Regions from separate parts of the Homo sapiens genome. Here regions 2 and 3 are each linked to region 1. Evidence: fine-mapped expression QTL. A gene starts in region 1. Each other region holds a variant in brackets. All regions are shown on one strand. Distances are from middle to middle.

The links. PIP is the estimated chance that this variant, and not a neighbour inherited with it, causes the effect.
Region 2: its variant is the best candidate, but not a certain one, in a credible set for the expression of SLC17A9 in whole blood (INTERVAL, PIP 0.74).
Region 3: its variant is the best candidate, but not a certain one, in a credible set for the expression of SLC17A9 in subcutaneous fat (GTEx, PIP 0.83).

Annotation. Positions count from the first base shown.
Region 1 is chr20:62,951,197-62,953,866 of GRCh38, forward strand. SLC17A9 (solute carrier family 17 member 9) reads left to right here and starts at 1,513. Exons shown (of 13, transcript NM_022082.4): 1 at 1,513-1,693. The coding sequence starts at 1,635. RefSeq lists an enhancer at 923-1,752 and silencers at 1,304-1,623, 1,634-1,733.
Region 2 is chr20:62,930,864-62,933,533 of GRCh38, forward strand. It overlaps a transcript of DIDO1 not described here. Among named protein-coding and RNA genes, the nearest start is that of DIDO1, 5.7 kb to the left of the region's middle. The variant C/T (reference allele first, on the strand shown) is at 1,193.
Region 3 is chr20:62,988,881-62,991,550 of GRCh38, forward strand. No RefSeq gene overlaps it. Among named protein-coding and RNA genes, the nearest start is that of BHLHE23, 17 kb to the right of the region's middle. The variant C/T (reference allele first, on the strand shown) is at 1,512.

The DNA.
Region 1 (2,670 bases):
CCTCAAAGATGCTTGGGTGCGGGGCAGCTCTCAGAATCCACCAGAAGCGTGGAGAGCCTCCATCTGGCCACTACCAGCACCCAGCTTTATAATGTCCCTGTGAGATGGCCCCTTCACCCACCCAGCCATCCCTGCATGGCCCGTTTCTTCAGCTCATCCAGCCTTCACTCAGGTGTCCAGGGGTGCCTCCTCAGCCCAACCTATTTGAAGTAACACCCCTTCCCTACCCCTTTCACTACTTTGATTTTTGTCTACCTGCCCCAGAACATCAGCTCCAGGAGGAAGGGGACTTTGGGTAACCAGATGGCAAATGTCTGCTGCAGCATGATCACAGATCTCGGTAGGAAATCACCATCACAGAGTGAATGGAAGCGAATCACCTCAAAGAGGGTGCTGTTGACAGCGATACGTTTAGCAACAGTTTCCAAACTTCCTGGCTATGGGCTAGGGCTGTTTGGGGCAATAAACCTCTCTCTGCCACCATCTTTTCACCTACCCTACGTCAGGATGGATGAAAGTATGACCTTGCTTTTCAGGGTGCCCGTGTCTTTCTGTTCAGAGGGCCCTGGGAGCAGGCCCTGCAGTGCAGTGGGTTGGGCTGTTGGAGACCTGAGGGCTAGGGGGAGGGAGGGGGTAAATGTGGGTCTGTTCTAAGTGCAAGGCCCTGCCTTAGACGTGTCTCCCTCGGCCCCTGGGTGGTGGCTGCTGCGTGGAGGATGGACTGAGGTGGGCCCTAGTGGAGGTGGGGGCAACGCCTGAGGAGCAGGCCCTGCCGCCTCCTGGGGAAAGGCTGCATGGTTGAGGCCTTCCCCTGCTGGCTTCATCCTTGGCATGGCAGCAGGAGCACACAGAGTGGGGGCCCCACCCCGTCACCCCTGCCCCCGAGCCCAGAACCTGGCCTGTGATGGGTCCTCAGGACACCTTTTGTCCAGGAACCCAGGGGCCAATGACAACCTTCACAGGCATCTGCTGAGAAGACATGGGCCAGCGCTGGATTTGTCCAGCTCTCCCAGGCTTGGTCCAAGGGCTCAGGAGTGGACCCATCCCTGCCCCGAAAGATCCATTTTAAAAATCAGTGACCCTGTACTTTTACTCTCTTTGCACTTGGTTAAGACTTTATCCCTGATTTTATTTGATCGGTAAGGCAGGGACTGCCATCATTCCCCATTTTATAGACAGAGGACAGACGGCCCCATGGCTCCGTGTCGTGTCCAAGGGATGGGCTGGCACCTCTTGGACCAGGCTTACCACCAGGGCCCTTCTCTGAAGCCCCAGTCTGACCGGCCTGCTGCTGGGAATCCCCCTCTGCCCCCACACTAACCTCTGCTGGGGCTGAGCCAGGGCGCGTCGGACAGTCAGGGCGACCCAGCCAGGGCGACCGTTGGCCCCGCTCCTATGGGGCAGCAGGGACCGACGTCAGCAGGGTGGGGCGGGCACCCGAGTGGTATGCCCCGCCCTGCCCCGCCTGCCCGCCCTGGTGGCCGTCTGGGGGCGACAAGTCCTGAGAGAACCAGACGGAAGCGCGCTGGGACTGACACGTGGACTTGGGCGGTGCTGCCCGGGTGGGTCAGCCTGGGCTGGGAGGCAGCCCCGGGACACAGCTGTGCCCACGCCGTCTGAGCACCCCAAGCCCGATGCAGCCACCCCCAGACGAGGCCCGCAGGGACATGGCCGGGGACACCCAGTGGTCCAGGTGTGGCGGGGGTGAGGGGAGGGGGGGTGGGAGCGGTGGAGATGGGGCCGTGGGGAGGGAGCTGAGATACTGCCACGTGGGACGATGCTAGGTGGGGAGGGCTGAGCTGGGCGGGCTCCTCTGGCTGTGGGGCCCCCTGTGTTCCTTGTGGGAGGTGGAAGGAAGTGAGTGCCCTGTCCTTCCTCCCTGCCATGAGATTCCAGGACCGGACCTGGCAAGTGCCCTATCCCAGCCAGTGTTCCTGGGGCTCTTCCAGGCAGGGCTATGTTCCCCAGGCCAGGGGCATTGTCCTGGACAGTCAGGAGGCATACCCCTCGCCAGGTGGAACCACCCTGTGTATGCATGACCCTGACAAGCAGGCGCCAGGACAGTCAGGAGGCCAGGTAGGGGGCACGGGCTGGAGCCTGCAGCTGGACGGGGTTGGGGGGGGTCCTGCCACCACGTGCCAGCTGTGTGCTGAGGACGAGCTCCCCGCTGGCTTCAGCTCTCGGAGCATTTGGTGGTGGGGAGAAGCAGGGCCTGGGCAGGTCGCCTGGCCACCAGCACTGCTGCCTGTAGGAGGCTCCCTGGGCAGGTGACGCCTCAGAAACCGGGCGAGATGGTGACCGCGGGCCATTGGTCAGCTGGGGAGGGCCTCTGCCAGGGAGCTCCTGAGAGCAGCCCCCACACTGCTGAACCCCTTGGCTCTGGGTCTTGGGCTGAGGCCTTAAGTGGCTGGACCCTGGGCCTAGACTCAGGCCCTGTGGGTTCCAGAGCAGTCTCCTGCCTGCACTGAGTCCCCAGGGTACCTACCCTGACCATGGCAAGGTAATGGCACCTTCTGGCCCCACCAGTTCCCAGCTGTATGAGGGCTGAGGACCCTAGAAGTGCTGGGAAGAGTTGTAGGAAGGCCCAAAGGGGCAGTGCCACCATCGGATGTTGGCACCCAGATGAAGGGAGCGCTGGCTGCATGGGAAAAGCTGGCAGCCCAGATCACA
Region 2 (2,670 bases), 20 kb before region 1:
ATGGCAGGGAACTGAATCTGGATGTTATTCTCAGTTCTGTCATTTTCCAGATACCTTTAGAAAGAATGAGCTGCAGTTTGTGTTGTTGTTTTCCTTGAGACAAGGTCTCACCCTGTTGCCAGGCTGGAGTGCAGTAGTGTGATCTTGGCTGTCTGCAACCTCTGCCTCCCAGGCTCAAGCAACCCTCCTGCCTCACCCTCCCGAGTAGCTGGGACTACAGGTGCATGCCACCACAACTGGCTAGTTTTTGTATTTTTTGTAGAGATGGGGTTTCACTATGTTGCCCAGGCTGGTCTCGAACTCCAGGGATCCACTCGCCTCTGCCTCCCAAAGTGCTGGGATTCCGAAGGCATGAGCCACAGTGCCTGGCCTAAGCTGCAGTATTTCTATATCTTCTGCTAAGGAGTGAACACATTAATACAGAACCATGCTCATCACTCCTTCCTCTGAGAATGTTTCATGTTTCTCTAAGGTGTCTAAGTTTTCTCTTTGAGGTCAGTGAAAAGTAAATAAAAACAACTTTGGAATAAATCAATATTTTAGTTAAGTATAGGGCAAAAAACTATTTCTTTTCTGACTGGTTTTATCTCAACCATCTTTAAAGGAACACAGCAAACAAGCCAAAAAAACGCTTGGACAGATTCTGACAGAATAAGAGTAAAGTGGTTGTACCCAAATAGGACATTTACCCTTACAGGCTCTTCACACCACGGAATAGAGACCCGCGAAAAAGGGGAAACGAACCCATAGACGACTGAATTCCTGCACCTGCTGGCGAGCACCAGGAGGAAGGTGCAGGGATGTCCATGAGGTCAGAGACAGCCATCAGTTCACACTGCATTCCAGACGCAATGGGCCCCGGCCCCATTCTTGGGCCTTCTACCTAACCTCAATGCCTTGGGAGTATGGGACCTTAGGGGTAAGGATAGGGCTACAATTGTGCAGGCTACAATTAAAGATTTTTTTCTTAAATGAAAACACTTTAAGAAGTGAAAGAGACTCCAGCAACCTTCCAGAATTTGTCCAGATATGAATAACTATATAAATTAATTCCTGCTCTTGCTTAGTTCACAAAAACAAAATGGTAAAACTGAGAAAGAGTGTGTTTGGAGGAAATACCAACAACAACAACAAAGACTGAGGTATTAGCAGTTTCCAAAAGACACCCAAATGGGAACTGGAGGTTTTTTCC[C/T]TTCAGGGAGGTCTTGCTTTGTTGACCTGGCTGGTCTCAAACTCCTGGCCTCAAGGGATTCCCCTGTCTCAGCCTCCCCAAAGTGCTGGGATTGTAGGTGTGAGCCACCCTGCCTCTTTCATTCCAATAGGAAAGTATTTAAAGAGTAAATGTAGGGCCAGGCACGGTGGCTCACGCCTGTAATCCTGACACTTTGGGAGGCCCAGGAGAGAGGATCACTTGAGCCCAGGAGTTGAAGGCCAGCCTGGGAAACATAGGAACTCTTATTTCTACTTCTACCTGCCCATCAGACACGTGATCACAACAGCTGCATGCATACAAATAACTTAAGACACAGAGAGAACTATCCACATGTATGTGTGTATATTTACATATATTTTTTGTTAATTTTTATAAAAAAGAAAAGTCAGATCCCAAACCAGTAACTGTCTATCAAATCCTGACCAGCCAGGTTCAAACTACATAATCAAACTCAAATGAAATAGTACATAAACAATGCTTTGACCATGTACATTGCTACTCAAAATACTCTTTGGCCTTTCCCACTGGTCTGCAATGGCAGGACTGTATCACCTTCCCTCCTACCACATTTGTTTCAGGTAACAGTATGCTAGATACGGTTTGTCTCAACCTCAGCAGGAGTTAAAGGTTTTAAAAAAATAAAAATAAAAATCAAGAAAAGATTATTCTTGCTCTCACCCAAACAAACTTACAAAATATTCAGTGCTTTCTGATTTAGTGGTATAATCTAGAAAGGGAAATAAAATCAGGCAAAAAGAGGGAGGGGGAAGGTCACCTATATCAAACAATCACCAGTGAAGATTCTTTACAGGGTCTGGGTTCACCAGACACATGGTGTCAGAATATGTGCAGCAGGCCAGGCGCCATGGCTCATGCCTGTATTCCCAGCATTTTGGGAGGCCCAGGCAGGTGGATCACCTGAGGTCTGGAGTTCGAGACCAGCCTGACCAACATGAAGAAACCCCATCTCTACTAACAATACAAAATTAGCCGGGCGTGGTGGCGCATGTCTGTAATCCCAGTTACTCAGGAGGCTGAGGCAGGAGAATCGCTTAAACCGGTAGGCGGAGGTTGCAGTGAGCCAAGATCGTGCCATTGCACTCCAGCCTGGGCAACAAGAGTGAAATTCTGTCTCAAACAAAAAAACAACAACAAAAGAATATGTGCAGCAGACTAAATAGTAAAATTCTTCCTTACCTCTTTCCAACATCTCTAATTGTTTAAAATACTGTGAAAAGTGAAGTTCATGAAAATTGAGGTCTGAGTGTTTCCTACCTACTTCTGCTAACCATTCTAAGCATCAACAACTGATGGGTTTATCAATTATCCTGAAAAGTAAGGTGGTTTGATTTGCCCAATCTCTTTGAAAGCCTGAAGTCTCCAGTATGTAGGGGTTTGATTTTATGCTTTTGGGTTTTGAGAGTAAAACAAAACATCCATGGGAATAATGTGGTTTT
Region 3 (2,670 bases), 38 kb after region 1:
TCAGATGAGCCATGGCCAGCCCCTCGACAGCAACCTCCTGGGAAAAACGTCCAGCTAAGCCACACCCCAACTGGAAGTGGGTCCTTCAGATGACCGGAGCCACGGCCAGCACCTCAACAGCAACCTCCTGTGAAAACCACCCAGCTAAGCTGCACCCCAATTCCTGTTCCTCCAATACTGTGGTCAGAGGGGCTCAAAGCAGAATGAGTCCATCTTGAGTAGGGAGTGGGTAAAATGAGGCTCAGACCTGCTGTGCTGCACTCCCAGGGGTGAGGCATTCGGAGTCACAGGATGAGATTGGAGGTCGGCAGGACTGGTATCACAAGATGCAGGTCATAAAGACCCTGCTGGTAAACAGGATGTGGTAGAGATGCCGGCCAAAACGACCAAAACCAAGACGGTGAGAAGAGTGGCCTCTGCTCACCCGCCCTGCTCATTACACACTAATTATAATAGGTTAGCGGCTAAAAGACGCTCCTGCTAGTGCCATGGCAGTTTACAGATGCCACGGCAACATCAGGAAGTTACGCTATATGGTCCAAAAAGGGGAGGAACCCTCAGTTCTGGGAATTGCCCACCCCTTTCCCAGAGAACTCATCAATAATCCACCCCTTGCTTAGCATATAATCAAGAAATACGTGTAAGTGACCTTAGTCAGCAGCCCATGCGGTGGCTCTGCCTATGGAGTCCCCGTTCTTTTGTTCTTTTACTTTCCTAATTTACTTTCACTTTATGGACTCGCCGCAAATTCTTTCTTGCATGAGACCCAAAAACCCTTTCTTGGGGTCTGGATCGGGACCCCTTTCCCTGCTCGTCTTCTCTGCATCAGCCCAGACCCCACACCTGTTTCCTGGCGTGGACATGGAGGACTGAGGCCATCCTCCCAGCCACTGACACACGCCCCTTCTGGGGTGGCCCGGCTGGCATTGCCTTCTCCTAACGTTCCCGGGGTGGCCCGGCTGGCATTGCCTTCTCCTAACGTTCCCGGGGTGGCCCGGCTGGCATTGCCTTCTCCTAACGTTCCCGGGGTGGCCCGGCTGGCATTGCCTTCTCCTAACGTTCCCGGGGTGGCCCGGCTGGCATTGCCTTCTCCTAACGTTCCCGGGGTGGCCCGGCTGGCATTGCCTTCTCCTAACGTTCCCGGGGTGGCCCGGCTGGCATTGCCTTCTCCTAATGTTCCCGGGGTGGCCCGGCTGGCATTGCCTTCTCCTAACGTTCCCGGGGTGGCCCGGCTGGCATTGCCTTCTCCTAACGTTCCCGGGGTGGCCCGGCTGGCATTGCCTTCTCCTAACGTTCCCGGGGTGGCCCGGCTGGCATTGCCTTCTCCTAACGTTCCTGGGGTGGCCCGGCTGGCATTGCCTTCTCCTAACGTTCCTGGGGTGGCCTCCAAGGTGCTTGTGACTTTCAGGAGAGCCCAGCAAGGCCACCCTCCGTGCTCCTTGGTCTGAGCATCCTGAGGTGGAGGGTGCATGACCTTCTGTTCAAGAATGCAAATGCCTGGACCAGGAGAG[C/T]GTCGGTGTGTGCCAGAGAGCCGCCTCCCTGCATACTTTCCACCCCAGGCAGGGGCTGCCTCTATGGGGCCAGCCGGGAGACTTGCCTGCAGCTGCCTTGGGCCCTGAGTTCCGGCTCCTCCGAAAGCAGCAGGAGGCCCTGGGTCTCCTTCACCCGCCACCACCCCATCTGCAAGACGGGAACGAGAGCCTGGCTTCGTGGCTTGCACTGCGGAGTGCTTAGGACCTGACCCACCCAATCTCCACAGCTCTTCACAGCCTGTGAACGTGGTAAAACGCGTGATTAGGTTAAGGGTCCCAGCGGGGAGTGCGCCGGCTTGTGGGCACTTAGTACCTGAGCCCACCCAACCTCCAACAACTCCACAACGGCGGTTCCTGAGCTGGGCTATAGAGCGATCAGTCCCTCACCCACCTCATCTCCAACACCTCCACGGTAGGGGCTCCTGAGCCAGGCTGCTGAGCACTCAGTACCTGATCCACCCAATATCCAACACCTCCACAGTGGGGGCTCCCGTGCCGGGCTGCAGAGGCCCACAGGACCACACAAGGGTCTCTGTGCCCAATTTCTGGGCACCCTGGCTGGCTGACCTGTGGGGTGGGGGCAGCTTTGCTGCCATGCACACTTGATGGAATTTCATACTGACAGCTCGCCCACCCTCTCCTCTCATTCCTCTGGGAGAAAAAAACTTACACGAAAGATGTGAACAGGCCCAAGTGGAAAGGAAAGCCACCACCCCAGGAGGATGCCAAAGGGCGTGGGGGCACACGTCCACGCCGCAGCCCAAGTTTAGGATTTTTCACGGCAGGTGCTGCTTTCATCTTCTGGAACTGCTACCGTGAAGTACCACAAACTGGGCAGCTTAAAACAAGAGAAACTGATCCCCTCATGGTCCCGGAGGCCAGAAGCCCCAAATCAAGGTGTGGGCAGGGCATGAGTCCTCCTAGGGGGATTCTCCTTGCCTCTTTCTGCGTCTGGTGGTGGCCGTCAATCCCAGCTCCCAGCACTGCAAGCTGCTGGCAAAGGCCAGGAAGTCAGAGATGGAACCTGAGCTGCTGCTCAGAGGAGCCGGGCTCAGTCACACACACGATGCAGACAGTTCCCAGATCGACTAAGGAAGCAAGTAGCCAGAAGCACTGTTTGCAACAGGCTGTCATTCTG